4 linked regions of the Homo sapiens genome follow. The protein of the gene in region 4 purifies or fractionates together with the protein of the main gene of each other region. This does not show direct contact. Each region holds a gene or a part of one and is shown on either strand. Other genes may lie near its edges.

Region 1 (7,027 bases), on a different chromosome or scaffold from region 4:
AAACTCCGGGAGCTGAAGGGGGCCAAGCTAGTGATTGATGTGATTCGCTATGAGCCACCTCATATCAAAAAGGCCCTGCAGTATGCTTGTGGCAATGCCCTTGTCTGTGACAACGTGGAAGATGCCCGCCGCATTGCCTTTGGAGGCCACCAGCGCCACAAGGTGTGGATTCCCTTGCCCAGGCTGGAGCTGGACAGGCTCAGTACTGGAGATTCATTTGTTCAGCTTCTCCCCCTCTTCTCTCTTCCCCCTGCTGTGTGTAGACAGTGGCACTGGATGGAACCCTATTCCAGAAGTCAGGAGTGATCTCTGGTGGGGCCAGTGACCTGAAGGCCAAGGCACGGCGCTGGGATGAGAAAGCAGTAGACAAGTTGAAAGAGAAGAAGGAGCGCTTGACAGAGGAGCTGAAAGTAAGCCACAGGCAGTGCTGTTTTTAGCAGTGGGAGTCCTAAGCCTAGGTCAGCCACCACCTTACCACCTAGCCCTTCTTTCTTGTTCCCTTCAGGAGCAGATGAAGGCAAAACGGAAAGAGGCAGAGCTGCGTCAGGTGCAGTCTCAGGCCCATGGACTGCAGATGCGGCTCAAGTACTCCCAGAGTGACCTAGAACAGACCAAGACACGACATCTAGCCCTGAATCTGCAGGTGGGGCCTGGCCTTCAGCCCTGTTCTCCAAAGGCCATCCACACATTCCTGGCCTAGGTTTCTCTGGGGGTGGGGAACTTGTTTCACTTCCCCGTCTCCTCCCAGCCTGCCGCAGGGAGTCAGGTATAGCATAGAGTCAGACAGCCAGGGGTTCAGAGCTTGGCTCTGCCTTGAGTTTGACATTAGGCAAGTATTTTCACCTTTCAGTGTCAACCTTCACATCTTTATCTGTGAAATGCGAGTTAAGATGATACCTACTCGGCCGGGCACGGTGGATCACCTGTGGATCACCTGAGGTCAGGAGTTGGAGACCAGCCTGGCCAAACCTGTCTCTACTACAAATACAAAAAATTAGCTGGGCGTGGTGGCAGGCGCCTGTAATCCCAGCTACTTGGGAGGCTGAGGCAGGAGAATTGCTTGAACCCGGGAGGTGGAGGTTGCAGTGAGCCGAGATCATGCCATTGTACTCCAGCCTGGGTGACAGAGCGAGACTCTGTCTCAAAATAAATAAATGATACCTACTTTATAGGGTCATTATTGAATGAGTTAACATGTAAAGTGCTTAAGACTACCATGTGTTCAGTTTATGTTATGTGCTATTGTTAGCATAATTTATTCATTCAACAAATTTGAATTTTTGAAAGTGAGCTATGGGCATTTCAGTCCCTGCTTGTGGTAGTGGGCGGGGCGGGGGGGGACTGTTCTAGGTATATTAATGTGTTTTGTTTTTTTTACTGACTACTTCCCCAGACCGCCCTAGAGGTTTTATATGTAGTGTGTGTATTTATATATCTTTTTCTAAACTCAAAAAATCTAAACTGAATTCTGAAACAACTCTGCCCCCAGGGGTTGTAGATCAAAGACTGGGACCTATACCTAATGATGTTTACTGTGTCCCCAGCCCTGTGGATTGAAGCTGGCTGAACTGGATGCCAGGGAAGAAGCCATGTGATGGCTTCAGTGCAACATCATGGAGGCTTGACTAGGGCAGTAGTGCTAAGCCAGGTTCTCTCAGTTGTGGAGAGCTAGCCCTTCCTGACTGTGGGGCCAATGCAGTCAAGGTAGCTTTTTCTCCAAGGAGCCTGGTCTGCTTTGTCCTCTCAACCCATTGCCTGTAGGAAAAATCCAAGCTGGAGAGTGAGCTAGCCAACTTTGGGCCTCGCATTAATGATATCAAGAGGATCATTCAGAGCCGAGAGAGGGAAATGAAAGACTTGAAGGAGAAGATGAACCAGGTTGGTAGGGTGTGGGCCATGCCAGCGTGTGTGTCAGGGCAGGACTGGGACTGGAAGCAGGACAGACTAAAAGGGCCGATGCCCTCCCTGGCTTCTCTTCTCAGGTAGAGGATGAGGTGTTTGAAGAGTTTTGTCGGGAGATTGGTGTGCGCAACATCCGGGAGTTTGAGGAAGAAAAGGTGAAACGGCAGAATGAAATCGCCAAGAAGCGGTAGGTGGGAGGATTGGTAGAAGAGATTGGCATGCCCTTGAGCCTCTAGCTTGACATCCTTGGAAAACCAGATGCTGTCATAGGCAAGGGTCAGCTCTTAGAACTATGTGAGTTTATGTAGCTAGGCCTTAAAGAACAGAAATCAGGAGGGCAGTATGGCATAGTTATAGTGGTTAAGAGTGCCAACTCTAAACTTGATTTTCTGGATTCCTGGATTACAACCCCAGCTCCACAACTCGTTATCTTTGGCAGTGACTTGACTTCTGTAAGCTGCAATATCTGCAAAATGGTATAATGATACCTATCTCATGGCATTGTTGGGAGGATTAGGTGAAATAATTTTTTTTTTTTAAGATTACCTGTTTTACCTTTTTTTTTTTTTTTTTTTTTTTTTGACACAGGATCTCACTCTGTTTCCGAGACTGGAGTGCAGTGTCAATCTTGACCTTCCCAGGCTCAGGTGGTCCTCCCACCTCAGCCTCCTGAGTAGCTAGGACTACAGATGTTTGCCACCACGCCCGGCTAATTTTTCTTTTTTTGTTTTTTGTTGTTGTTGTTATTGTAGAGATGGGGTTTTGCCACATTGCCCAGGCTCGTCTTGATCTCCTGGGCTCAAGTGATCCTCCTGCCTCAGCCTCCCAAAGTGCTAGGATTATAGGTGTGAGCCATATTGCCGGCCCTTTTTTTTTTTTTTTTTGAGACAGAGTCTTGCTCTGTCGCCCAGGCTGGAGTGCAGTGGCATGATCTCGGCTCACTGCATTCTCCACCTTCCGGGCTCCCGTGTTCATGCAATTCTCCTGCCTTAGCCTCCTGAGTAGCTGGGACTATAAGTGCACGCCACCATGCCCGGCTAATTTTTCTTATTAGTAGAGATGGGGTTTCACCATGCTGGCCAGACTGATCTCGAACTCCTGACCTCGTGATCCACCCGCCTTGGCCTCCCAAAGTGCTGGGATTACAGGATGAGCCACCACGCCTGGCCCCAACCCCCGCCTGGCTTTTTTTTTTTTTTAACCTTTTTAAAAGGTATTTAGCAGCTTACATATCATCTACTAAGAGCAAGAAATAGTAGCTTTTGTTGTTATTATCATAATGGGCAACGTGAGGTGGAGGGAGGCGGGAGATGAAATTCTTGGTTGAAACAATAGTCAGAAGAAAATAATCTTCTCATTTTTCCTCACTTTAGTTGATTCATTCATTCAACAAACCTTTGTTGAGTACCTACCTTGTGCCAGGTTGTCTTGTGCTAGGTATTGGAAGGGGGACAAGGGAGATGGAGGTAAGACAGATGAACACAACACAGTCTTTGCTGAAGGAGGTCATCCCTTGTACCCTGGGCTTCAGTTAGCAGTTTAGCCCTTTGCCCATACAGTAAATATTCATTGCTGTCCTACTTCAAGCCAGTCTCAAGGGATATAGAATTGAATCAGACTGTATTTCTTTCCTCAGGAAACATATAGAGTACTGGGGGAAACATCAATTTGAGGACAGTGTGATCAATGGTGTAATTAAGGTAGATACAAAATACTGAAGAAATTTTCAAGGAACTGCAAATCAACAACAGGAAAAATAAAAAACAATGACAAGAAACCCAATGGAAATGTGGCTAAGTACTTATGATACCCAATGCAATGAAAAAAGTAAAAAAAAAAAAAGTGGCAAATAATATAGATAGGCTTTCATGGAAAGAGAAGTTCAAGTGGCTAATGACCATAGGAATTGAGGTCTAACCTCTTAATCAGAGAAATGCAAATTTAAAAGTCTGACAGTATTAGGTGGAAATCTATAGATGTCCTGTGTAGTATGTGAAAAAAATATATGTGTATATATATAATGTATATATATACACATATATAAAACCTATGGGTATATATCCCTGAGAGAGTCTTGCCATAGGGTCCCAAAGAGATACACATTCAGTGTCATTCATCTTGGCATAACTTGTAGTAGTGGGACATTGGTGGCAATGTAGATGGCCATTACTGGGGGAGCATAAGTCAAATGAATATATAGACTGGAATACTGTGTGGGAGTTCACAGCAAGAACTAGATTTGTGGGCAGTAATGGATAACTTATAAACCTGGTATTGACCAGAAAAAAGAATAAAATTTATAACACAGTAGATTTGTGTAAATTTTAGAACTAAGACATTTTACAAGGATATGCATTTTTAAGGAATGCATGTGTGTATGTCACTTTGTGGTGCATGTTCACAGTAGGGAAGGTAATGGGAATGGAAATTGGGGATTGAAACAAAGAGGACAAGGGAAGGGTCTTGCCCAGGCAGTGGTGATAAGTGTGTTATGAACTGTGGGATATGATTAACTTGCTTCTGCACCTAAAGTCTAAAAAGGGAGGAACCCAACAAAGTGTAATAGAAACTAGGAACCTGCTCAGAACCGTCAGGAAAGGTTTTACAAAACAGGGAGTGATGACTGGAGACCTGAAGAGTGAGTAGGATTTAGCCAGCCAGGCAGCGACAGAAAAAGTGAATTCCAAGCAGAGAGAACAGCATGCTTGGAAGTGTGAGAGAGCATGCCTTGTTCTGGATACTAAGTAGTTTTTAATGTCTGGAGCATAAAAGCAGGGTCAGGAAGAAGGTGGGGAGTGGTGGAGAGGTCAGCAGGGGCCGGATCACAGAGGCCTTTGTGAGTCATACTTAGGAGATTGGATATAAAATTGCATAGCTCAAAATTATAGAGTTAGTTATATTTCATTTGGATTATAGTGGCTAATAGGTTTAAGCTGCTAGCATGACATCTGGCAACATCTGTCACACCATATTGGGAGTTGGAGAGGGCAATTGGAAGTTAGTCCTGCCTGGCCTGCCAGTGCCTGTGTATGCTGGTTGCATACTCTTGAGTTTCTGAAGAGATGGAGAGGAGGACAATAGCAGGAATCCAGTATTTTCTCCATGTTTTTGTACTATCCAAGTTCTGCCCTTTAAGAGGTTCTGGGACCTTGGGGCAGAAGTTGGGATGCTGTAGTTGAAGCCCTTGGACAAAAGTAAGCTGAGTACAGTCAATATACCTGGTGATAATGGTAACTAAAATTGATTGAGTAGTTATCGTGGACTCGGTGTGGTTCTAAGGACTTTATACATATTAACTCATTTAAAAATCTCCCAATAACCCTGAGGTAGGTACTATTATTATGTTCATTTTGCAGATGGGGAAACAGGTCTGGAGAGTATAACCAACTTGCCTGAATGACATTACTAGTAAGTGGCAGAGTTGAGATGCCAGTCTTCTTAATCCACTACATTATGTTGCAGTGGTGGTATACTAGAAAGAGCCCGGGTTTTGGTGTTAAATCTGGGTTTCAGTCTCACATGTGCCATTTACTAGCTGTGTGGCCTTGGGCAAGGTCTTTTACCTCTTGGCCTAAGTTTTCCTCATTTGTAAAATTAGGATAATAATGCCTACTTGCAGAGCTGTTGATTAGAGGATTAGAGATAATGTATGTAAAGTACATAGAAGCCTAATAGGAATTACCATAGCTGGTAGAATCAGATGGACTCTTTTATGCCTCCTTGTAGGAACTTGGAGGGCGCTGGGGTCTTCATTGTTTAAAGGGGGATAAATAAGGTTTGGCCGAATCTTCCCTGCCTTATGCCATGTCCACAGGGCTAGGCTGAGGAACTTAGTTCTTCAGCTTCAGGGGACCGTTTTATGTGCATATGGATGGATGAAGCAAGTTGTGACTGAAAATCAGTAACTCTGGGTCCCTGAGCCCTGGGTCTAGTTTCCCTTTCTTCCCATAGTTGGATTTTGTACATTGGTTATCTCTGGCTGATGAGATTATGAGTGATTCTCCCCCCACCTTTATACACAGTTTGGAGTTTGAGAATCAGAAGACTCGCTTGGGCATTCAGTTGGATTTTGAAAAGAACCAACTGAAGGAGGACCAAGATAAAGTACACATGTGGGAGCAGACAGTGAAAAAAGATGAAAATGAGATAGAAAAGCTCAAAAAGGTAAGGAAGGAAAGAATTAAAAGACAGACTAATAACTGGGAGGAAAAATGGGAAGAAATACGACAGACAGAAGGATAATGTCCACAACTTAGAAATTTCTCATCTAAATCAATAAGAAAAATACCAAGACCTAAACGGGAAAAATGGATAAATGTCACAAACAGTTCAAGAAGACTTTCAAATAGTCCCTAAACACATACAAATAATTTAGTCTTACTAAAGAAATGCAAATTAAAGCAACAATTAGATACAATGTATTTTGTAACACATCGTGGAAAATGTAAAAACAGAAGACACAATGCTCAATACCAGCCATGGTATAGGAGACCAGTATTCTTTTTTTCTTTTTTTGAGATGGAGTCTTGCTCTGTTGCCCAGGCTGGAGTGCAGTGGCACTATCTTAGCTCACTGCAACCTCCGCCTCCCGGGTTCATGCCATTCTCCTGCCTCAGCCTCCCAAGCAGCTGGGACTACAGGTGCCTGCCACCACGCCCAGCTAATTTTTGTATTTTTAGTAGAGACGGGGTTTCACCATATTGGCCAGGCTGGTCTCGAACTCCTGACCTCATGATCCACCTGCCTCGGCCTCCCAAAGTGCTGGGATTACAAGCATGAGCCACCGTGCCTGGCCAGGAGACGAGTATTCTTATGTAATGTGGCACCATCCTTCAAGAAGCTTCACAATGCATTTATACTCTGTAACTCAGTAGTACCTGAGGAGATCATCCAAAATGCTGGCAAAGCTTTATGCAAACACTTTGATGTTTATAACAAGCATTATTTATAGTTCCAAATTGGAAACTACTCAGTGCCCCTTGGAAAGTGGGAATTTAGCAAATCATGCTACGTTTGTAACATTATTTATGTAGTGTCTTCAAACTTTAGTAATACACAGACCCTTTTTAAAGGAAAAATAGTCCCTAAGATTGCCAGTGTTGCCTTAAATCCGTGATGTTACTTA
Region 2 (7,027 bases), on a different chromosome or scaffold from region 4:
TTCCTTACAACAACACTGAACCATAGCAATAATTTTATAAACAAGATACTGAGACATAAAGAAATTAACCACCTTGTTTGACAAACAGTAAGTAATACAGCTGAAATTTTAACCTGGCTATCCTTCTCCAAAGGCCGTATTTTTAACATTATGCTTTCTTCCCAGGAATGAATTTTAAAGAACTGTCCCTCGTCTCCCCTATACAAAGATTAGCGGATAGACAGACAGTGTAGTAATTCTCAGTTTATAGATACACAGTAAAGCTGGGTAATAATACATTTAAATATAATATATATGACCGTCATTTTCATAAGAATACTACATCTTTAAAATAACTTCGCTGTGTAAAAAGTGCTTCTACATTTATGACCTCATTTAATCATTGCAATAATCTCATGTGGCTGGAAAGAGAAGGGTTTTAAGAGGCTATAGCTAAGGAGGGATAAGTGAGTTTCACGGACTGTGAATGGGAGACCTAGGAACTGAATGAAGGTCTCACAACTTGGTAACACTTAAAATCCACATTCAAACTCCTGCCTAGTGCTGAGCGAAGCAAGCTATAGGTAGATGAAAAGATGGTTTCTGCCAGTAATGTTATCAGATGTTATATGTGTGACTTCACTTTAGTAGACTAATTCTAACTCATCTAAATTGCTTTATTTCACTAATGTGCCATTGCAAGATGTTGCTGGATGATGCCACTTTTTACTTAAGCTATGAAATAATATGTTTTCAAAAACTTTTTTACAAAGGTGTGGCTAGAAATGCAAATGAGTTTAATCTGTCTATAATTTGCATAGTCTACATGCAAACTAAGGAATGACAACTTTCAATAACTTTAAAGGAATTGCTATAATGTCTGAAGTGGCTTTAAAACTTAGTTAAACCCTCAAGTTTTATATTAAAGATTAAAGCTCATAACTCCATTCTTCCCATCTTAGTCCTCCCAAAATACAGGTCATTCCTAATAAGCACTGACTATATATTATATGTATCTAACGAAGTGTTCCACACCACAGTAGTCATTCAGTATTTTTTTTGGTCAATTCAGTGTTTCTTCTAAATTTAAACATTAATGACTTTGTCTCATTTAGGAAACCTAACACAACCAAACACTAATTCTACTGCACAGCACAATAATTCAAGCTACTGAACATGCTGCTTTTACTTAATAACTTTACCTGTTTCTGAATGATTTCACTTTGATTAGAAGCTTGGAGGGTGTGTTCACGCTTAATTTCTATCTGTTGCTGTTTCTTCTTTTGCTGCTGATCCCTGAGTTGCTGAACCCTTTGCAACTGCTCTTGCACACTGGCTGCCTGCACTGTAACCACATTCTGAATCTGGTGAGTCTGCACAGCACTGCTTTGCTGAATTTGGATAGGTAACTGGAGTTTGATTTGCTGGGGCACACCACTTTGCTGAGCCTGTATCTGAGCCACAACCTGTGACTGGATCTGAGAGAGAACCTGGACTTGTTGTTGCAGCTGAGGCACAGCAATGACTTGGGGCTGTGGCTGCTGTATTTGTAGCTGAGGACGGGATGGGGATGAAACAGTAACTTGATTTAAAGTTTGTCCTGATGAAAGAGTTTGAGTTGAAGACTGTACCTGGGGTTGTGACTGTGGCTGGCCTTGGGAAGGTATCTGAAGAGATGTATGTGGTTGAATTGGAATCGGTTGTGAGGTTGTAGTCTGAACCTGGGATTGTTGTCCAGGAGACAGTTGGGATGGAGTTGATGGACGTATTCGAGTCTGTGATGGACTTTGGACACGAACAGGAGACTGTCCTTGGACATTACTTTGAGGCTGAGACTGTGCTGCAACTTGGGGCTTGGATGACTGTGCGTGGGTGGGTTGTGCTTCAGAAGGGACATGGGATGAAACAGTTGTTTGGGTCTGAACTTCAGGCTGAGTCTGAACTTCAGGCTGAGCTGGGGACTGGGGCTGGGTTTGGGGCTGGGGCTGAGCTGAAGGCTGAGCAGTCTGTGGCTGGGCTTCTGCTGGACCCACACTTGATGACTGAGCTGGTGGCAGGGTTTTGTCTTGATGTACCTGCATCTGGGGTGACAGTTTACTCTGCCTTTGTTCACCTGTACCTGTAAAAAGGAAAGATGAACCATTTCTATTACTCTGGAACATAAAACTGTGGTTAAAGAAGAATCTGAAGGAAATCTTCTGAAGTTGAGAATTCTGGCCAGGCGTGGTGGCTCACACCTGTGCACCTTGGGACGTTGAGGTGGGAGGATCGTTTGAGCAACATAGTGAGACCCCGTCTCTACACAAAAACAAAAAAAATAAAAAATTATCTGAGCATAGTGGAGCATGGCTATGGTCCAAGCTACGTGGGAGGCTGAGGTGGGAGGATTGCTTGCGTCCAGGAGTTCAAGGCTACAGTAAGCAGTAATGGTGCTACTTCGCTTCAGCCTGGGCGACAGAGCAAGACCCTGTCTCGAAAAAATAAATAAAGTAAATAAAGTTGAGAATTTTGTATTTTGGTACAGAAGGTCTATGCCTTTGAAATGCTCCATTTGGACACGCTTAGGGCAGGACGCTCTGAAACTGGGAAGCCTGGGCCCTGCTTCTTGGCTGTCCCCTGTACACTCTCCTAACTCTAGAGGGCTGGTTTCCAAAGTAAGTTGCAGCCTCTGGAAATCAGCTGGGTCATCTGGCCCAGGCTAATTGCCACGCTTCACTTTTCTCCCATGATGTGGTGGTAGTTAGTTACAATGACTTGCAGCAGAAGGTCAACAAAGTGGTTCTGGACCCACTCTCAATCTGAGGTCATGAACTGGATTTACCCACCCTCCCTGAGATCACCTCCATGACTGAATCAGCACCTACAAGGCTTAGCAAGGAGTAAGTGTGGGCATAGTTACCAAGATAACCATTATTTTTGCCCCCTTTCTCTCTCTCTCTTTTTTAATAGGAGGGAGAGGGTGGTGGTAACAGGGAGTCTGTAAGAATAGGGTACAAAAGCTTCGAGACGTTGTGAGGCTGACTATGTCAACTGTTGAGGTCACTGGCTTGAGGCATATCCTTCCAAAGGTAAATACTGGTTCTCCTGTTGGCCTCTGTTAGCCCAGCCACGTGTAGTAGTAACATCCGACATTTCCGATAAACCCACAGCTCTACCTGCTGCTGTCGTGGAAACAGTGGTGGTGGTGGTGCTGGCTGTGGTGGCTGTTGTTGCCAATGGGGTAAAGAGGAATCGCTGAACAGTACCATTTGGCATTGCAGCTTGCATTAGCTGCTGGCCTGGGCCTGGGAGTACAGTCACCCCTTGAGGTATCAACTGCAACTGTCCAGTAGTTTGACCTTGTCCTTGAATTACTACTGTCAAACCTTGATTGCCACCCTGTGGAAAAAACACAACATGTAAACAGTGTTCAAAGCATCAATCTGTATGTATATCATTTTTATTAAATCATTTTTATGTGTAATTATCTTTTAATATAATGAAAATACATATTTGAATGTCACCAGCAGGAATTTAGATAAGCTAAAGTAAGAATATTTATGTTGCTTAGTAGGAAAAACATCAACAATCCAGAGTTCCAGTTCAAGCTCCCCCAATGGTCAGCCAGTTATCTGTCCACAAGCAACACTGTTCCTCCAGATCCAAGTTTCCCAATCTATAAAATAAAGGTATTGAATAACTAAAGTCCCCACAAAATTCTGATTTTAAATAATCTTATATTCATATTTTACAATTTCAAAAGCATCTTCATAGATACTGCCTCATTTGATTCTCACAATGGACTTGTGACTTTATGGGGTAGGCAGAGAAAATATTCTTCTGATTCCCAACTAAGAAACTCAGGTTAGAAAGGTCAAGTACCCTGGCCAACTTAAAGGTGAGATAAAAGAAGGAACCTAGATCTCCTGAATTTTGTCTTTCAATACGTGCCAAATTACCTATGGGGTGTGTGTGTGCTAAACTGTAAAAAGCTTAGGGTTTTAGATATGTAATGCAAACACCAAGTAAGGAGGATCACTAAGGTCTGAGCAGTTACCAAAAAGGGGTCCAGAAATTTAAAATTCTCTAGGCGCTCTCTCTTCTGTCCAGAACTGTAATTCAACTAGAAACCCTGAATACCAGGAACATGCTGGAGAACTGGAAAGCAAAAGTAAAAACCATCCCCTAAACTCCCAATGACCAAAACTGATGGCGCAAAGTCCATGTACTAAGTAAGCTCCATATACATGTGAATCCCTCAAAACTTATTTACTCTTGCTTTTCTAAAATACATTTTTTATGCACAAAATGCACAAAACACCAAGTATAATTTAAAAATTATAAAGTAAACATCTATAAAACCGCCACTGTGGTCACCATTGCCAGTGTCCTAGAAGTCCCCATATGACTCACCCGGATTTCAATTCCCTCCCTCTCCCCTAGAGGTAAGCACTATCCTCACTTTGATGATAACACTGTATTTCATTACTACTTCGGTATGTATCTTAGGTATATATAAGGCCACTGAGGTTCACAAACTCAGGAGCAATATTCACAAAGAATACAATGGGAATAGTGCCCCCTCCAGGCAGGCAATGCAGCAGCCCTGTATCCCTACACAAAATAGCTTAGTTTTGCCTATTTCTGAATCTTATACAAATGAAATTATAACATGTATTTTTTTTGGCAGCTACTTGCTTCTTTAGCTTACCATTATATATTTGTGAGAATCATCTGCATAGTTCTGTGTGGCTGAAGTCTATTCATTTTTATTGCTGTAGGAATATACTACAATTTACTTAGCTAACTGATTTTGATAGACACCTGAGTTGTTCTTAGTTTTTGATTCTTATGAACAATGCTGCTACCAATATTTATGCCATGTATTCTGGTGCTCACATGGCCAACAACTTCTCTAGGGATATACCTAGAAGGTATACTGGGACCTTGGGCATACACAGCTTTGACTTTACCAGACCATGTCCAGGAAGTTTCCAAAATGGCTGAACCGACTGATAGGCCCACCAGCTGTGCATGAGAATTCTTTCTGCTCTATGTCTTTGCTAACTCTTGGTTTTGTTGGACATTTAAATTTGTACCAATCTCTTAAGCATATGGTTTTAATATGTACTTCTCTCATTATTAATAAAGTTCAGCAGTTTTTTGGAATTTGGGACATTTAGATTTCTTCTTTCCTCATAATGTTGGTTTGTCCTTTTTTTTTTGTTTTTCTTTTTTTTGAGACGGAGTCTGTTGCCTAGGTTGGAGTGCAGTGGTATATCTTGGCTCGCTGCAACCTCTGCTTCTTGGGTTCAAGCAATTCTCCTGCCTCAGCCTCCCAAGCAGCTGGGATTACAGGCGTACACCACCACGCCTGACTAATTTTTGTATTTTTAGTAGAAACGGGGTTTCCCCATGTTGGCCAGGCTGGTCTGAAACTCCTGACCTCAAGTGATCCACCTGGCTTGGCCTCCCAAAACCTTGGCCCCCCAAAGTGCTGGGATTACAGGTGTGAGCCACCGCACCTTGCCTGTTTGTCTTTTTTCCTATTGATCTATCTGGATTTTTTTCTTTCTTGATTTGTAGTAATTCTTTATATATTCTGGATATGTAATAGTCCTTGGTTGGTTCTTTTCTCATTTTCTTCACTCTCTCTGTAGTGAGTTTGATGAACAGAGGTTCTTACTCTTATTTTTAAAGTAGTTGAATTTATAAATCTTTTCATTTATGGTTAGCATTTTCTATCTGTTTAGGAAAGCTATGAAGATATTCTTCTATCTTCTAAAGGTATTATAGTTTTACCTTTCACAGTTAGGACTTTCATCCTCCTGGAATTGAGTTTATGTAGAGTGAGGTAATAATGGTCCAATTTCACAGTTTCCCATGTATATTCAATTGTCCTGGCACCATTTACTGAAAAGTCATCTCTTCCTCAATGATCTGCAATGTCACCTTTGTCATATAACAAGTGTCCACATACATGGGGTTCATGTTCTGCACTCTCTACTGTTCTGTTGGTCTATCTGCCTCTCCTTATGTCTGTACCTCACTATATTAATTAGTGAAGTATTATATACTAAGTTTTTTGGTTTTTTTTAGATGAAGTCTTGCTTTGTCACCCAGGCTGGAATGCAGTGGTGCAATCTCAGCTCACTACAACCTCCGCCTCCCAGGTTCAAGCAATTCTCCTTCCTCAGCCTCCTGAGTAGCTGTGATTACAAGCGCATGCCACCACGCCCAGCTAATTTGTTTGTACTTTTAGCAGAGATGGAATTTCACCATGTTGGTCAGGCTGGTCTCAGACTCCTGACCTCAAGCAATCCACCCGCCCTGGCCTCCCAAAGTGCTGGGATTACAGGCGCAAGCCACCATGCCCAGCCTATACTAAGTTTTGATATCAAGTTATCATATATAGGGCAAATAATCCTGTTCTTCAAAGGTACAGATATTCTTAATACTTTGTACCTCCATATAAACTTTCAGTATCAGCTTGTGAAGTTTCACTAAAAACAAAACCTCTTGGGATTTTGATGGGAGCTGCATTCAATTTATTAATCAATATTAGAAGACTTGCTAACAATATCGAGTCTTGCAAGGAAGCAGCTTAATGTACTCAAATTTTATTTGTCTCATGGAGATTAGCCAACTAATAAAATTTTGGTGTTTAAAAGGGTTATCTGTCTCACTGTTTTAGCTCACTGTCTAAAGATTACTCTAGTAGTTGGGGTTTATTATATCCTGTCTAAGAGGTATTTCTGCTTGACTCCAGGAAGCAACCATTTCTTCAAATCAGCACATTTAAAAACGTATCAAAATAAGTTCATGTTTTTAAACTTACCGCAAGAATAAATAAGATCACCTCTAAAGTTAAAATAAAGCTTATGTTACTTACGTGGCCCTGTGTTAACTGAGTAAGTTGAGCCATGGTGAGCTTCACTTGTCCTTGTTGGGGGCGAGGGGGTTGTGAGGCTGAAGACTGTATATTTGAAGTGGACGTTGCTGAAGTTAAGCTTTTCTGCCCAGGTGTTGAGGAAACCGTGTTAGGGGCGGAGACTGCAGTGGAGACAGG
Region 3 (7,026 bases), on a different chromosome or scaffold from region 4:
CAGCATTTAAGGATGACACTTTCTCAGCGGAAACTACTGTCCTCCCCTTTCCACCCAAGTGGTGCTGACTCCAAAAGGGGTGCAGGTAGAAGGGAAATACAGGGAATTATATCAATTTATTTGAAAACAGCATATCCTCTCAATGGCACTAAAATACTGAGTTTATAAGAAAAATATATAGATTATATAGATTTTCATAGGCTGATAATGCCAAGAACCAATGGAGACCTCAAATTAAACACTTTCTGTGCATGAATTTTGGCAAAGAATATTTCAGAAATAATGGCAAAAAACTTAAATATTCAATGTCATAAATACAGTCATCAGTGTTTTGTCAACAACAAAATGCACTTGTATATGTAAGCAAAGGCTGGTCCTGAGACTTATAACAGGCCTTCCCTTTGGTAACATCAAAATCAACATAAAACAGAGTTGGGCAACCTAACAGAATAGAAATAAGTACCTCTGAAGACAGAAAGAAAGAAAGATGACTGTATCGTGGTCTCGTTACTGGCTGCTTTAAAAAACTAGTGGATTAAAAAGTTGTGAGAGGGAATAGAAAATTAGGAACTGCTTCTCAGAGGCACAGGCCAACCAAGAAAATGTGGTGTTGGCATTACATATATTAGGTCTACCACTGTTTAAATTTTCTTAAAAACACTGAAGAGCATTTTATAAATTACTGGATTAAATAACCTGAAGAAAAAAGAAGGAATGAGGCCTGAAGACACGTCCAATTCACTGAAGAACTGGGGCAGCCAAGAGCTTGAAAAACTAAAATTAAACACAACGGACTGTATCAGCCACAGCTTGGGCAGACCGATGGGCCCTGAATTTCTACGTTCTTTAAAATCAGGATATTATTGCAGCTCAGGGTTTAGTTTTGGAAAGATACCAGATAAATCTCAAGCAACAGTGTGAAAGAAAGGCAGAGTTCAGGCAACATTTATATAAGATCAGATGAACCCCTGATATTCCTTCCAGGTCTTGAATACAATCTGTGAAAATTCAGAGTTCAGGGGTAGAGAGTAGATTGTGAGGATTAATGAAAATGAATATTAGGTTTGATTTTCACATTAGAAAAGGGAGGTCATAATTACATTAAATGTTGGCAAATGTGAAACAGGTGTTAAAACCCAGTCTCAATTCAATAATTTGGGAGTTTATAAAATTCAATGTTGTCAACTCCAAGAGGCAAGAATAATTTTGTTTGTCTCAGTGTGCTAAGATATGACAACATAAGTAAAAGTTCACTATTTCATACTGTTGATACAAGTAAAAAACTGGTACCATAAAAATGTATACTTATGAAATGCACAAATTGTTAAATAGCTCTTCGGGGACTTTTCTTCAGGATATGAAAAAGGAGGGGGCAGAGTTGCTCTTTCCCTGGTAGATAAGCATACAAGTTATGTTCAGGCATAGGCCTTTGGGATGACCAAAGTAATCAGGAGGAAAAAGTCCTCAGATATAGCACTTTGTCATTTTGAAACTTCAAATTACAGTTAAAAAACAGGTTTCAGACTTTTTTTGAGGTAACTTGAGCTCCTGCAATCAACAACCTTCTTCACCCCATAATGTAAATGAGTATCGAAAAAAAGGAAACAAAGTAAGCCCCGTCACACGGACAGTAAGAGAAATTCTGAACTCCAGGTCTGTTCCAGGATGAGAGCCATGTCCAAGATTCTGCATTCTCTTCTTCCAACCACTCCTTTCAAGAACTCAAAATGCCAGTCAGTGCAGGTAAAGGAAGATGCACATCCGCCGGTTGCCAATTTCTGAAATTTTCTTGTTACTTCTACGATACAGACAAGTGATGCCTTCTCAACTTCGTCCAGGTTTCTTCCAATCTCCGAACACGGTGACTCCGAATCCTCTTGCCACTCCCTTCTCCAGGGACCTACCTAGGCAGCACTCCCAGCCCCTGCCAGCTCTGGAAGCTGCAGAGATCCCGACAGTCGGGGATGGGGATTGAATCCTCTCATTGCAGTGCAATTAAGCGGAACCACGACCACCGCACAGATTGGCTGACAACACACATTCCATAAGACCAGCAATCGAATTTTGAGAAGCCTTGTCCAATCAACAGGCTTTATTTGGGATTCAGTTTTTTACTTTGTTCTATTAGGAGGAAATATAATCAGCCACCAGCTTAGCCCTCCAAAAGAGGGGACAGAGATGTTTCTCCGCTTTTGCACGCTATAAAGTGAATCTACAAGTAGTAGTTGGTGGAGGGAAAATGGGCCTGCATGGAGAAGGCGCCCACCACGAAGGCACGGCCAAGCCGGGTTGCACGCAAGAAACACACAAAATACCAGGTGATTTACACAAACAGCCCCCAGGACCACCATTTTTGTGGTCCCCAAGGCAAACCAGTGGGATTCTCCCGGCAGTTTTGCGGCAACAGCTAGCTCAACAAAGCTCTGTGAAGAGGAAAAGAAGAAAGCTCCTCGTACTTTCTCCTGCCAGCCGCAGCCCCAGCCCTCCCGTGGCCGCGGCCACGAGCCCTTTCCCCCTGACAGCCCGAGGGACCCCCGCATCGCGGGTTCCGAGCCGCACAGCTCGACCTGAACCCGGGTTCCCGCGTCTCCGGCGGCCTCACGGCGCCCCCGAGGGCGGAGACGGCCCGGGCAGGGGGAGGGGCGGCCCGGGTCCGCAGGCCCCCGGGGCGGCCGCACGCCCCCTCCCGGCCCCGCAGCTTTCCCGCCTTCCCCGTTTGAACAGCTCCCGCCCGCCCTCCTCCTTCTGCCCGCTCCAGCCCCTTCCTGGGGGCGGCTGCGGCCGCTACTCCAGTCCCCGGCTCGGCCCCTGGGCTAGGCCGCGAAGGGCCTGGGGCACCCCAGAGGTGATGTCGCGGGCCCAGGGCGGCGGGTGGCGACGGGGCGGGGCTGCTGCCGCCTCAGGGTGGGGGCCCAGCCCGGTCTCCTGGGGTCTCCGCTCGCCGCTACCTTCACTCGGCTCGCCCGGATCCCGCCTCAACGCCGCCGATCGCCGCCATCTTGGAGAAGGAGAGAAAAGCGCGAGCGGCCAGGGAGCCTCAGTCGAGCCCAGAGCGCAGACTCGGGCTCCGGAGGGGGAATCCCGCTCGACCAAGAGCGCCGAGCGCATCGAATAAAACTCGGAGCCTGCTGAGCGCGGGAGCTGGCACTTATTTATTGAGAATTTGCTATGTCCCAGCCTTGCCCTAGAAGCTTACAAACATTATTTCACTTAATCCTCACTGTATTCCTGTCGCATTTTGCAGAAGAGAACCAGGCTGAGAGAAGTTAAGTGACGTGCCCAAGGATACACAGGTAGTTGGAATGTGAGACCGAGTATTACTCCAAGTCTTCTGATTCTGAATGCAGTGCTTTCCCCAAAATACTATGCTGTTTCTTTCAAGATATTGTTATACAGCAGTTCTCCTCTTTGCAACACCTAGATCTATGCAGATTAATAGCAGTGTGCTTATTTGGACTTCAGCATCTACATTTGAACATTTGGCATATTAGGGGTGAGGTGAAGAACTTATCTTTGTAACAATGTACAGTAAAATAATTTGCATGGCGAATCATCTACATTTTTTAGTTAGAAACAGTCTTCAGAGAGAGAGAGGAAGAGATGTCATATACAGGCGAGAACACAATTTTTCTGATTTGCCATTGAGAACTTCGACCAATGAGTAGAAATTACAGTGTATAGAACTTGGTTTGATATGAAGAAGAACGCCAGGGGCGGTGGCTCACGCCTGTAATCCCAGCACTTTGGGAGGCTGAGGTGGGTGGATCACCTGAGGTCAGGAGTTCGAGACCAGCCTGACCAATGTGGTGAAACCCCGTCTCTACTAAAAATACAAAAAATTAGCCAGGCGTGGTGGCGCGTGCCTGTAATCCCAGCTACTTAGGAGGCTGAGGCAGGAGAATCGCTTGAACCCGGGAGGCGGAGATTGCAGTGAGCCGAGATTGCGCCACTGCACTCCAGCCTGGGGGACAGAGTGAGACTCCATCTCAAAAAATATATATATATATGAAGAATAACTTATTTTTCTAGTACAGTTCAGTAGTACAATGGGCTTCCTTGTGAGTAGTGAGCTCCCTCCCACTGGAGGAGCGCTCAAGCAGAAGCTGGTGTTACTGTAAAGCAGAGAAGTTAGAGATGTAGATTGGCTTCTAGAGTTGTGAACCCCATGCAACGTAAAATCATGTGTGCAGTGTGTGTTTTCCTAGGGCCCAGGCCCCATAAAAAATTAAGAACCTCTGTCCTAGTGTATTTTCCATTGCAGAGTTGGGTGAGTGCTTGAAGACGAGGTAGTCATGAGACCAATAAAAGCAAGGTGATTTGTCTGAGACCACACTCTAATCAGTGATCAGATAAAGATGAAAAGCCAGATTGTTAGACTCTGGTTCAGTGCTCTTTTTGCTATATCATGCTCTCTCCCCCTCTGCACTGAGTAGAAGATTGATTCTGTTTCTTACAACTGTGAGATGCTGAGATGTTAAAACACCTGAGATAAAGTTGCTGAAATCATTTGCAAAATGTAACTGCAAATACTTAATAAAAGTAGCATGGCCTTTTTCTCCGCAGCTCCCATCCTACTCACCAAAAAGACAGGCAATGAGTTTCACCAAAAGGTGTTAGATTGCATTTCTGGGACACCCTGCCTGACGTTAGGCTTCCCTTTGAGGCATTTAAGAGCCCTAATGATGTATTTCCTTTTTGTTCTTCAGAGCCCTAAATCCATTGGTCAGGATGATTTCAGTTGTGACAGAAACCCATTTCCATGTGTTTCCCCAGAAGAGGGGAATTTATTGGCTCACATGATTGAAATTTCCAGTACCTGCAGACATGGTCACTTCCAGGGAGGTAACTCAAGCTGGTCCTTTGACGTGTCTGTGGTGCTCTCCTCTGTTAGCTTTATTCTCAGATTCAGGTGATGACTCCAGCAGCTCCAAGCTTCATCATCTTTCCTGCTAGCAGTGTCCCTGTGGAGGGAGGTTTTGTTTGTTTGTTTTGAGACAGGGTCTTTCTCTGTCACCCAGGCTGGAGTGCAGTGGCACGATCACAGCTCACTGCAGCTTCGACCCCCTGAGTTCAAGCAATCCTCCCACCTCAGCCCCCCAAGTAGCTGGGACCACAGGTGCATGCCACCATGCCCAGGTACTTTTTGTATTTTTTGTAGAGATGGGTTTTTTTTGTTGTTTTTTTTTTACCATGTTGCCCAGGCTGGTCTCAAGCTCCTGGACTCAAGCAATCCTCCTGCCTTGGCCTCCCAGAGTGCTGGGATTACAGATGTGAGCCACCATGCCTGGCCCTGGAAGGAGTTTCTTTTTCCCTTTTGCTTTGGCAAAAGTCATGGGATTGATTCTTATTGCCTGAATTAGATCATGTGTCCAGACAAAAAGCAATCACTATGAGTAAAGGTGTGGAGTCTGCTGCTGCTGCTGATTGGTTAAATTAGGTCATCTGCTTACCTCCAAAATTAGGTTGGGGTAGACACAAAGAAAATCAAGGGTTGCTGTCAGAAGGGTGAGTGCATGTTAGGTAGGCAAAAACAGTAGCTGTCCCCACACTCTACCACTAGCTTGGACCTAAAAGCCTTATGAGTCCTATTGGTCCCATTTCTTCTTTTAGTCCACCTGAAGATGGAGCATATCAAGTTCTTGCTCATTTTAAGCTCCTGGAGACCTGAAGTCAGATCTCTCCTCAGCCTACTCACTCAATCACAAAATGCTATTAACTTGCTCCCAGTCTTGGATCATTGCACTTCCATTTATTAAACAGATATTTATTGAAAACACAGCATGTGGCAGGTACTGTCTTAAGTGTTGGGAATAGAACAGTGAACAGAATTGAGAGTCCTTGGCCCCCAGGAGCTTACATTCCGGTTGGGTTGGGGGACACAAAATTAAGATATGAATACTACATTCAGTGATAATCAGAGGTGGAGAAAATAATGCCAGGTTGGCTACGAGAGTACCAGCAGGGGATGTGGGTAGGAACAGCTTGTTCTTTAAAACAGTAATCAGGGAGGCTTCTCTGTTGAGGTGCACACCGGAGCTAGCTCAGCCAGAAGTGGGTTGGTGGTGGGAGCCAGGAGATCATAGTTCCTTGAATGTATTCAAGTGCTTCCTCTGTACCTTGCTGGAAAAGTATTCTTTGCTGACTATCTTTCATAGTTCTCTTGCATTTTTGAAACTTGGAAAGACAGAAAAGAGGACCCTCTGGGCAGGCCTAGTCATGGTGGGGTTTGTGAATAAGAATGCCTTTTCCCATGGCAAGTGAGGATAGCATCTAGCATATGTGAAGAGGGGGCACTCCCTAAGTGTGGGGCAGTTCTCTGGTCCACCTGATCTAAGGAAAACTGCCTGGTGCCTGGCAGCAACAGGTGGGGCCTGTCAAATTGTGCTTGGTTTGGACATCTCTTTCTTCAGGCCACTTTTCTGTGCTCTTCTCTTTCCAGATGTGTTTTGAGCAGCGTCTTTGTCTTCGGTCTGATGGGAGGATGCCATCCTGGGTACATACATTAGGCCAGGGCCTTTTGCTAGAAGTGACAGGACCTAATTAAAACTACCTTAAGAGACAGGCAGAGGGACATACCACAGATTCTCAGTCTGTGTGTATGCCCTAAATTGCAAAATTAAAAAAATAAAGAGACCAGTAGAAAATATGTAACTCATGTAAAAAACAAAACAAAACAAAAACTACTCAGAGCCAGAGAGAAGCAGGCCCTCTGGACAGCTGGGTCCGGGGATTCAAATCCTTCCCTCTTAACTCTGTTCTCTCAGGCTGGCAGTCCCTAGGGGCCTGGAATCATGGCCACAGGTAGCCCAGGCTTACATCTTTATAGTCTCCTGACCAGAGAGGAAAGAGCATGTTCCCACATCAGCAACACACATACACACACACACACGCGCGCGCGCGCGCGCACAAAATCCAAGAGAAGAACTCCAATTGGCTGGGATGGGGTCATGTGATCATTCAGTATTGTGATAGTTCCTGGGATACCACAAAGTTGCAATAGGACATTAGTCCTTCTATAAAAGAAAG
Region 4 (7,027 bases):
GTATAATAAAAGTTGGTGATTTGAGTTGTTTCCCATGTGCTAGATTGCATTCACAGAGTGGATTGAACCACCTAAACGAGAAAGAAAAGCCAACTATGCCGTTGATGCATATTTCAGGGAAGCTCTTCGTGTTAGTGAACCTAAAGCACCCAAGGTGAGTTGACTGACACAGCATAAAAATATCTAAAAATTTTGAAAATGTAATTTTTTTCATATATTCTTGCAAAAAGATTGATAATTAGATTTTGTGTTTCTTTTTTTTTTTTTTTTTTGAGACAGAGTCTCACTCTGTTACCAGGAGTTCAGTGGTGCGATCTCAGCTCACTGCAACCTCCGCCTCCCGGGTTCAAGCAATTCTCCTGCCTCACCCTTCCGAGTAGCTGGGACTACAGGCACCCACCACCACCCCTGGCTAATTTTTGTAATTTTAGTAGTGATGGGGTTTCACCATGTTGGCCAGGATGGTCTTGATCTCTTGACCTCATGATCCGCCCACCTTGGTCTCCCAAAGTATTGGGATTACAGGCGTGAGCCACTGCCTCTTTCCTACATTTTGCATTTCTTTAGAGTGTACTCTCTTCTGTTTTTAGTTAACATTTTTCAAAAATTAATTTTGAATCTGTGCATTTAAAATTAAGATATAAATTCAGTTTTATTGAAAGATGCATTCAGTTGCTTGCAGAATTGGCTGTTGTGGTTTATGAAGTGAGGACTAAGGATACATTTAAAATGAAATTTCTTTTTTATGGATAACACTTATTTTTGTTTTTCTTTAGGCTCCTCGACCTCCAAAACAACCCAATGTTCAGGATTTCCAGTTCTTTCCTCCACGTTTATTTGAATTACTGGAAAAAGAAATTCTGTTTTACAGAAAAACTATTGGGTACAAGGTAATTGAAATTATCTGCCTTTCTGTTCATTCCTATCCAGAAATTATGGAAGGTATAAACATTAGTTATAAATATTTATCTAATTTGGACCTAGTGTGAAACAATACTGCTTTAGCCTAGTCTAGTTGTATGTATGAAATACATAAACTTGGGTCTGTTTTTCTTTAACAAGAAAAAATAAGACTTCATGACCAATCTGGTTTGTTTTTAACATAATACATGCAATGTATCAGTATATTTTCTTTCCTGGTTGAATTGAAACTTGTGAAATGTCAGTTAGTTGGTTCATCACATGCTCTTTAAAATTTACTGATTTGATGGCATAGAAAAATATCTTTTAGGTACCTCGAAATCCTGAGCTGCCTAATGCAGCACAGGCACAAAAAGAAGAACAGCTTAAAATTGATGAAGCTGAATCCCTTAATGATGAAGAGTTAGAGGAAAAAGAGAAGCTTCTAACACAGGTATAGCCTTTAATCAGTACAAACTTTAGTAACAGTTTGTTGTAAAGGACTGTGTTAGGTTATGTTGGGGCATAAAAATAAATACAAGTTTCTGCTTTTAAAGATGGAATAATTGGAGACAATAAAGTATGGGCATGTGGATAAATGCTCCATCTGATTGTCACTAGTTGAGGTAGTTGAGAAGACTACAGATTTTATTACTCTGGCTCGGTAGAGTGGGTATCTTTTTTATCACCTTACTTTGAATGTTCCCGTCTTTCCTATGAATTTTCCACATTGCTACCCAGTCACCATTTTCAACTATAAATCTTGGCTTGGTTATTTTTTAAACATCCTTTGGTGTTCATCAAGGTCTTTCAGAATCTGGCCTTTGACTTACCTTTAAAGCTTCATTTTCCTTCCATTTTTCTACTTGCTCATATTTTTGCCCTTTATGTTATTCACTCTTTCTGGCCAACTGCTAGTAATCCTTCAAAGCTCAGTGAAACTGTCACCTTTTCATACAGTATTCCTTACTCTCAGCCACTCATATTTAATTGCTTGGGTATTTGAGCAATATATAATGTGTTGTCAAAAGTGTATATTTATGTACACGAAAAGTTACCACTCTAAAAGAACTTAATAAACTAGTGAAAATTTGTTTTTGTAATATTTAGAAGGTTTGCTAATAGCATGTTTTCCAAGTTTAATGTGCTGTGATTAAATATTTTGTTTCTGTTCCTGTGAAGGGATTTACCAATTGGAATAAGAGAGATTTTAACCAGTTTATCAAAGCTAATGAGAAGTGGGGTCGTGATGATATTGAAAATATAGCAAGAGAAGTAGAAGGCAAAACTCCAGAAGAAGTCATTGAATATTCAGGTAATTCTTTTAAGCAGGCTGTTGGAGTTTAGTAAGAGCTGTTGGAAGGTTCTTGTTTTCTTATTCTGAATTATGTTGTGATTAGCTAATTTTGTCACAGTGTAGTTAGTACCTTCTTCATTATTTTTTACAAATTAGAAAATGTTCTGTTTCCAGAAATGGCGTAATGGTTTCCTTTTTAAAAATTTTTTAACCCTAGCTAACTCTAGCGACAGCAAAGAAAATCAGAATAAGTCACTGGATAATTGCCCTTGCATTTTTATCTTAATTTCTCTGCATAACTTCAAGTATTATGTGTTGTGTTTCCTGAAGTCAGTTGTATTATTAGGTTAACATGTGAGGGTATGCTGTGGTGAGTCTGCTTAGAATAGCAGAAATTTAAGAATTAGAAGATAAATAATCCAGTTGATCCCATTTTTTTTACATTAAAGAAATAAAAATATAAATGATTTGTTTACTTTGTCCAACTTTTACAGCTGTGTTTTGGGAAAGGTGCAACGAGCTCCAGGACATAGAGAAGATTATGGCTCAGATTGAAAGGGGAGAGGCGAGAATTCAAAGAAGAATAAGCATCAAGAAAGCACTTGACACAAAGGTAATTTGCTTGTTAATAAGTTAGGTAGTTAATAAAATAACTCCTAGCTGTGAGTATGAGAGAGTGACTTTTTATAAAGGAAAAGAAGTAAGGGTTTACAATTTAAAATTTCTTCAGAGTAGCATTCAAACATGGTATTGTCAGCAGAATTTACCTATACACTAGACTGATAGATCTGAGTCAAAGACACTAAGATTAGCTTTTTACTAAGTAGAATCAGGAAGTCTTAGTCTGTATTTCTCTTTATAATAATAAAGACTATAAAGGTCTTTCGGGACAAAGATTATATAAAGCAATTGAAGTGCTCTAGATAGAAAATTCTGATTTGAAATGCAACATTTTAGCTAATTATACTAAAGCTGAGTTTGAAATACAGATTATATAGGATTTGTATTTTATATAATATAAAATCTGACTTTCATAGATTGGACGGTACAAAGCACCTTTTCATCAGCTGAGAATATCATATGGTACTAACAAAGGAAAAAACTATACTGAAGAAGAAGATCGTTTTCTGATTTGTATGCTTCACAAACTTGGATTTGACAAAGAAAATGTTTATGATGAATTGCGACAGTGTATTCGCAACTCTCCTCAGTTCAGATTTGACTGGTTTCTTAAGTCCAGAACTGCAATGGTGAGTGCTCAGGGCTTTTTTGTGTAATGTAGCAGAGTTCAGAGTAAGTGTCATCTTTGGTATTCTTTAAGGTGACTTTAAAAAAATCTATGAAGTAGACTTTTGTTACAATATTGTTAGTATCATAAAACCTAATACCAGGGATAGCTTACAAGTTTATTGGTCCTATCCTTTAGTATCTTACGTCTTTAAATATCACTATATGATAAGACTAGCTTTTCAAGTTCTAAGTGGGAGGAAGTATCAGTTTCAACTTCTGAGTGTTACGACTTTTTGGTTTTTCAAATGAACATATTTCTATAAAGAAAAATGGTCCTTGCATTCAAGCATCTGCACATCAGAATCAGCATTCTGATTTATTTAATATAAATCATCCAGAGTCTGGATTATTTTAAGATGGCTTATTATAGTGAAACACTACTTTTGCACTGATTTAGTGCTAGGTTTTGTTTTTATTCCCAATATCTGACTAACAGTTTCTGACCAAATAGCCCCATTTCTAATAACCTAAAATTTGAATTCAGAAAAGTTTAACTTTGATGGATTGCTCCTTTTCTTCCTTATTTCACCACCATTGAACTTTGAGCTTCAACTTGTTTTCTGCCAGATGAGGATAATGCTAATAAGTTCTTTAGTCTTAAGTTTGGGATATTCTGGGATAAGCAAAGTTTAAACATCTTTGTGTTTGTTTATAGTAAGATTTCTCTGTATATTTAAAGTAAAATGTCACTTTGTAAGACAGTGGATAGTAAGCAGTATTTTCATGTTTGACCACTGAAAATTTTTTTTCACTAGACATCACTGTTTGTGATACCCAAGTTTGGGAAATGTACTAAACTTAAATACATGAAGATACTTTGAAGATAAAACACTGTATAAATATATAATTAGAGAAAAGATCCAGTTGCTGAAAGCTTATTTCTTCTTAAGTGGGAACAATTTATAGAGTTAATAAAGAATAATTTTATAGTGATTGTAACAAGACAGTGCCATGTTAATTTAACTAGTACAGTACCGTAATTTAAAACTGTGTTACTTCTTAACATGTTCCATGTTAAGATGCACAAAAAATGATAATGTATTCTTCTATCTCTATATACTATTTCTAAGTCTTGTGTGGTGTATTCTATACAGTAGTATTTTAAAATTATTTTACTGTAGTTGTGTGTGTAGTAGTATCACTTACTATAAGAAAAAAATAATTTTGCTCTATAAGAAAGGGGGCTGCTACCCAGCAGCCGTCCGTGCAGATGGACTTCTGTTTCTTTCAGGGTTAACTGCTACTTCTATGTTATACTTTAAATCTTTTCTGGAGGCTGTATGTCCAGTTTGCCAGAGAGAGATGAGGTAGAACTCATCGTAGACTTCCATGGCTGGTTTTCCAAAATTGGGAAAGGTGCCATGTGATTGATTGACTACCATAATTCTAGTGATACTTTGAAGGGAAAGATTATACACACCTGTTAAAGTTCTTGTTGTTTTTGACCCTCACATATGTGCACTATTAATCTTTTTAAGTTTTGGATATAAGTAGCACAGTAGTTCTCAGACATACACACTAAGTAGCAGTATTGCATATGTTCATTTTTATTGCTTTAATTCCTAAGTGAAGGAAGAATTTTTGAAGAATACACAGTAGTTTGGCTTTAAAGATTGGAGTAAAAACATTATTTACAAATATCTTGCCTTTAATCTTCATAGCATGAATTGTATATGAAAATCAGTTGTTTTTTTTTTAAATCAGGGGTGTATTAGTGGTTTTATATATTATCCTATTAAAACATACCTTGTTTTAAAATTGAAATCATGAAACTTGTGGATGGAAAGTGCGTGTACCATGTTTGTTTATAATTTAGGAGCTCCAGAGGAGATGTAATACCTTAATTACTTTGATTGAAAGAGAAAACATGGAACTAGAAGAAAAGGAGAAGGCAGAGAAAAAGAAACGAGGACCAAAGCCTTCAGTAAGTATTCATGAATATGTAAATATGTGGATTATGTAAATTTCCCCTTTCTAAGTATTTAACACTGCTTGGCTGTCATTGATGTGTTAGTCCCTGTTGTGCACCCCTCCATTGCCTTTACTTTTTTTTTTTTTTTTTTTTCCTTAAGGGAGAACCCAAGCTCATAATTTGAGATTCTTCCACTTTCAAATTTAGGTAGTGGTATAATTTTTAATTTTTAGTTGTTATGAGTAAGTATGTATTTATAGGTTACATGAGATACTTTGATACAGGCATGCAATAAGTAATAAGGACATCAGGGTAAATGGGGTATTTATCACCTCCAGCATTTATCCCTGTTACAAACAGTTTAACTCTTAGTTATTTTAAAATGTATAATTAAATTATTTATTGCGGTAGTCACTGTGTTGGGCTATCAAATACTGGGTCTTAGTCTCTCTTTGTATTTATTTGTATCCATTAGCCAGCCCCACTTTCCCCCACCCCCACTGCCTTTCTCAGCCTCTGGTATCCATCCTTCTCTCTGTCTCCATGAGTTTAATTGTAGTTTTTAGCTCCCACAAATAAGTGAGAACATGCCAAGTTTGTCTTTCTGTGTCTGGCTTATTTCACTTAATAAACTCCAGTTCCATCCATGTTGCTGCAAATTACAGGGTCTCATTGCTTATGGTTGAATAGTATTCTATTGTGTATACATACCATGTTTTCTTTATCCATTTATCTGTTGATGGACACTTAGGTTGCTTCCAAATCATGGCTACTGTGAATAGTGCTGCAGTAAACATGGGAGTGCACATATCTCTTTGATATACTGACTTTCTTTTGGGTGTAAACCTAGGAGTAGGGTAACTCTTATCTGTAGTTTTTTGAGGAACCTTCAAACTGCTTCCACAGTGATTGTACTAATTTGCGTTCCCACCAAAAGTGTATGAGGGTTTCCTTTTCTCCACATTCTTGTCAGGATTTGTTATTGCCTGACTTTTGGATAAAAGCCATTTTATCTGGGATGAGATGTTATCTCATTGTAGTTTTGATTGCATTTCTCTGATGATCAGTGATACTGAACAGCTTTTAATATGCTTGTTTGCCATTTGTATGTCTTCCTTTGAGAATCATCTGTTCAGATCTTTTGCCTATTTTTAAATCGGACTGTTAGGATTTTTTTCAGTAGAGTTGTTTGAGCTCTTACATATTCTGGTTATTTATTAATCCTTTGACAAATGGGTAGTTTGCAAATATTTTCTTCCATTCTGTGGGATGTCTCTTCACTTTGCTGTTTCCTCTGCTGTGCAGAAGCTTTTTAACTTAATGTGATCCCATTTGTCCATTTTTGCTTTGGTTGCCTGTGGGGTATTATTCAAGAAATCTTTGCCCAGTCCAGTGTTCTGGAGAGTTTTCCCAATGTTTTCTTGTAGTTTCACAGTTTGAGGACTTAAAGTCTTTAATACATTTTGATTTGATTTTTTTATATAGTTAGGGATACAGGTCAAGTTTCATTCTTCTGTGTATGGATATCCAATTTTCCCATTACCATTTATTGAAGAGACTGTCCTTTCTCCAGTGTATGTTCTTGGTAGCTTTGTCAAAAATGAGTTCCATGTAGATGTATGGACTTT

What was found.
Region 1: the proteins of SMARCA5 (region 4) and SMC1A purify together in Homo sapiens (co-purification; 2 studies listed by BioGRID, with this or other methods). This does not show direct contact.
Region 2: the proteins of SMARCA5 (region 4) and BPTF purify together in Homo sapiens (affinity purification with mass spectrometry; 4 studies listed by BioGRID and IntAct, with this or other methods). This does not show direct contact.
Region 3: the proteins of SMARCA5 (region 4) and HMGXB4 purify together in Homo sapiens (affinity purification with mass spectrometry; 3 studies listed by BioGRID and IntAct, with this or other methods). This does not show direct contact.

Annotation. Positions count from the first base shown.
Region 1 is NC_000023.11:53,398,628-53,405,654, reverse strand, and holds part of SMC1A (structural maintenance of chromosomes protein 1A), read left to right. Parts: coding exon 1-162; intron 163-263; coding exon 264-410; intron 411-505; coding exon 506-643; intron 644-1,761; coding exon 1,762-1,878; intron 1,879-1,982; coding exon 1,983-2,089; intron 2,090-5,924; coding exon 5,925-6,066; intron 6,067-7,027. UniProt on the Homo sapiens protein: Involved in chromosome cohesion during cell cycle and in DNA repair. Central component of cohesin complex. The cohesin complex is required for the cohesion of sister chromatids after DNA replication.
Region 2 is NC_000017.11:67,940,480-67,947,506, reverse strand, and holds part of BPTF (nucleosome-remodeling factor subunit BPTF), read right to left. Parts: coding exon 6,851-7,027; intron 3,358-6,850; coding exon 3,135-3,357; coding exon of another isoform or gene 3,023-3,134; intron 2,099-3,022; coding exon 1,182-2,098; intron 1-1,181. UniProt on the Homo sapiens protein: Regulatory subunit of the ATP-dependent NURF-1 and NURF-5 ISWI chromatin remodeling complexes, which form ordered nucleosome arrays on chromatin and facilitate access to DNA during DNA-templated processes such as DNA replication, transcription, and repair.
Region 3 is NC_000022.11:35,253,480-35,260,505, reverse strand, and holds the start of HMGXB4 (HMG domain-containing protein 4), read right to left. Parts: upstream 3,014-7,026; 5' UTR 2,949-3,013; intron 2,319-2,948; exon of another isoform or gene 1-2,318. UniProt on the Homo sapiens protein: Negatively regulates Wnt/beta-catenin signaling during development.
Region 4 is NC_000004.12:143,544,694-143,551,720, forward strand, and holds part of SMARCA5 (SWI/SNF-related matrix-associated actin-dependent regulator of chromatin subfamily A member 5), read left to right. Parts: intron 1-43; coding exon 44-154; intron 155-776; coding exon 777-890; intron 891-1,231; coding exon 1,232-1,354; intron 1,355-2,082; coding exon 2,083-2,215; intron 2,216-2,691; coding exon 2,692-2,810; intron 2,811-3,234; coding exon 3,235-3,447; intron 3,448-5,303; coding exon 5,304-5,411; intron 5,412-7,027. UniProt on the Homo sapiens protein: ATPase that possesses intrinsic ATP-dependent nucleosome-remodeling activity.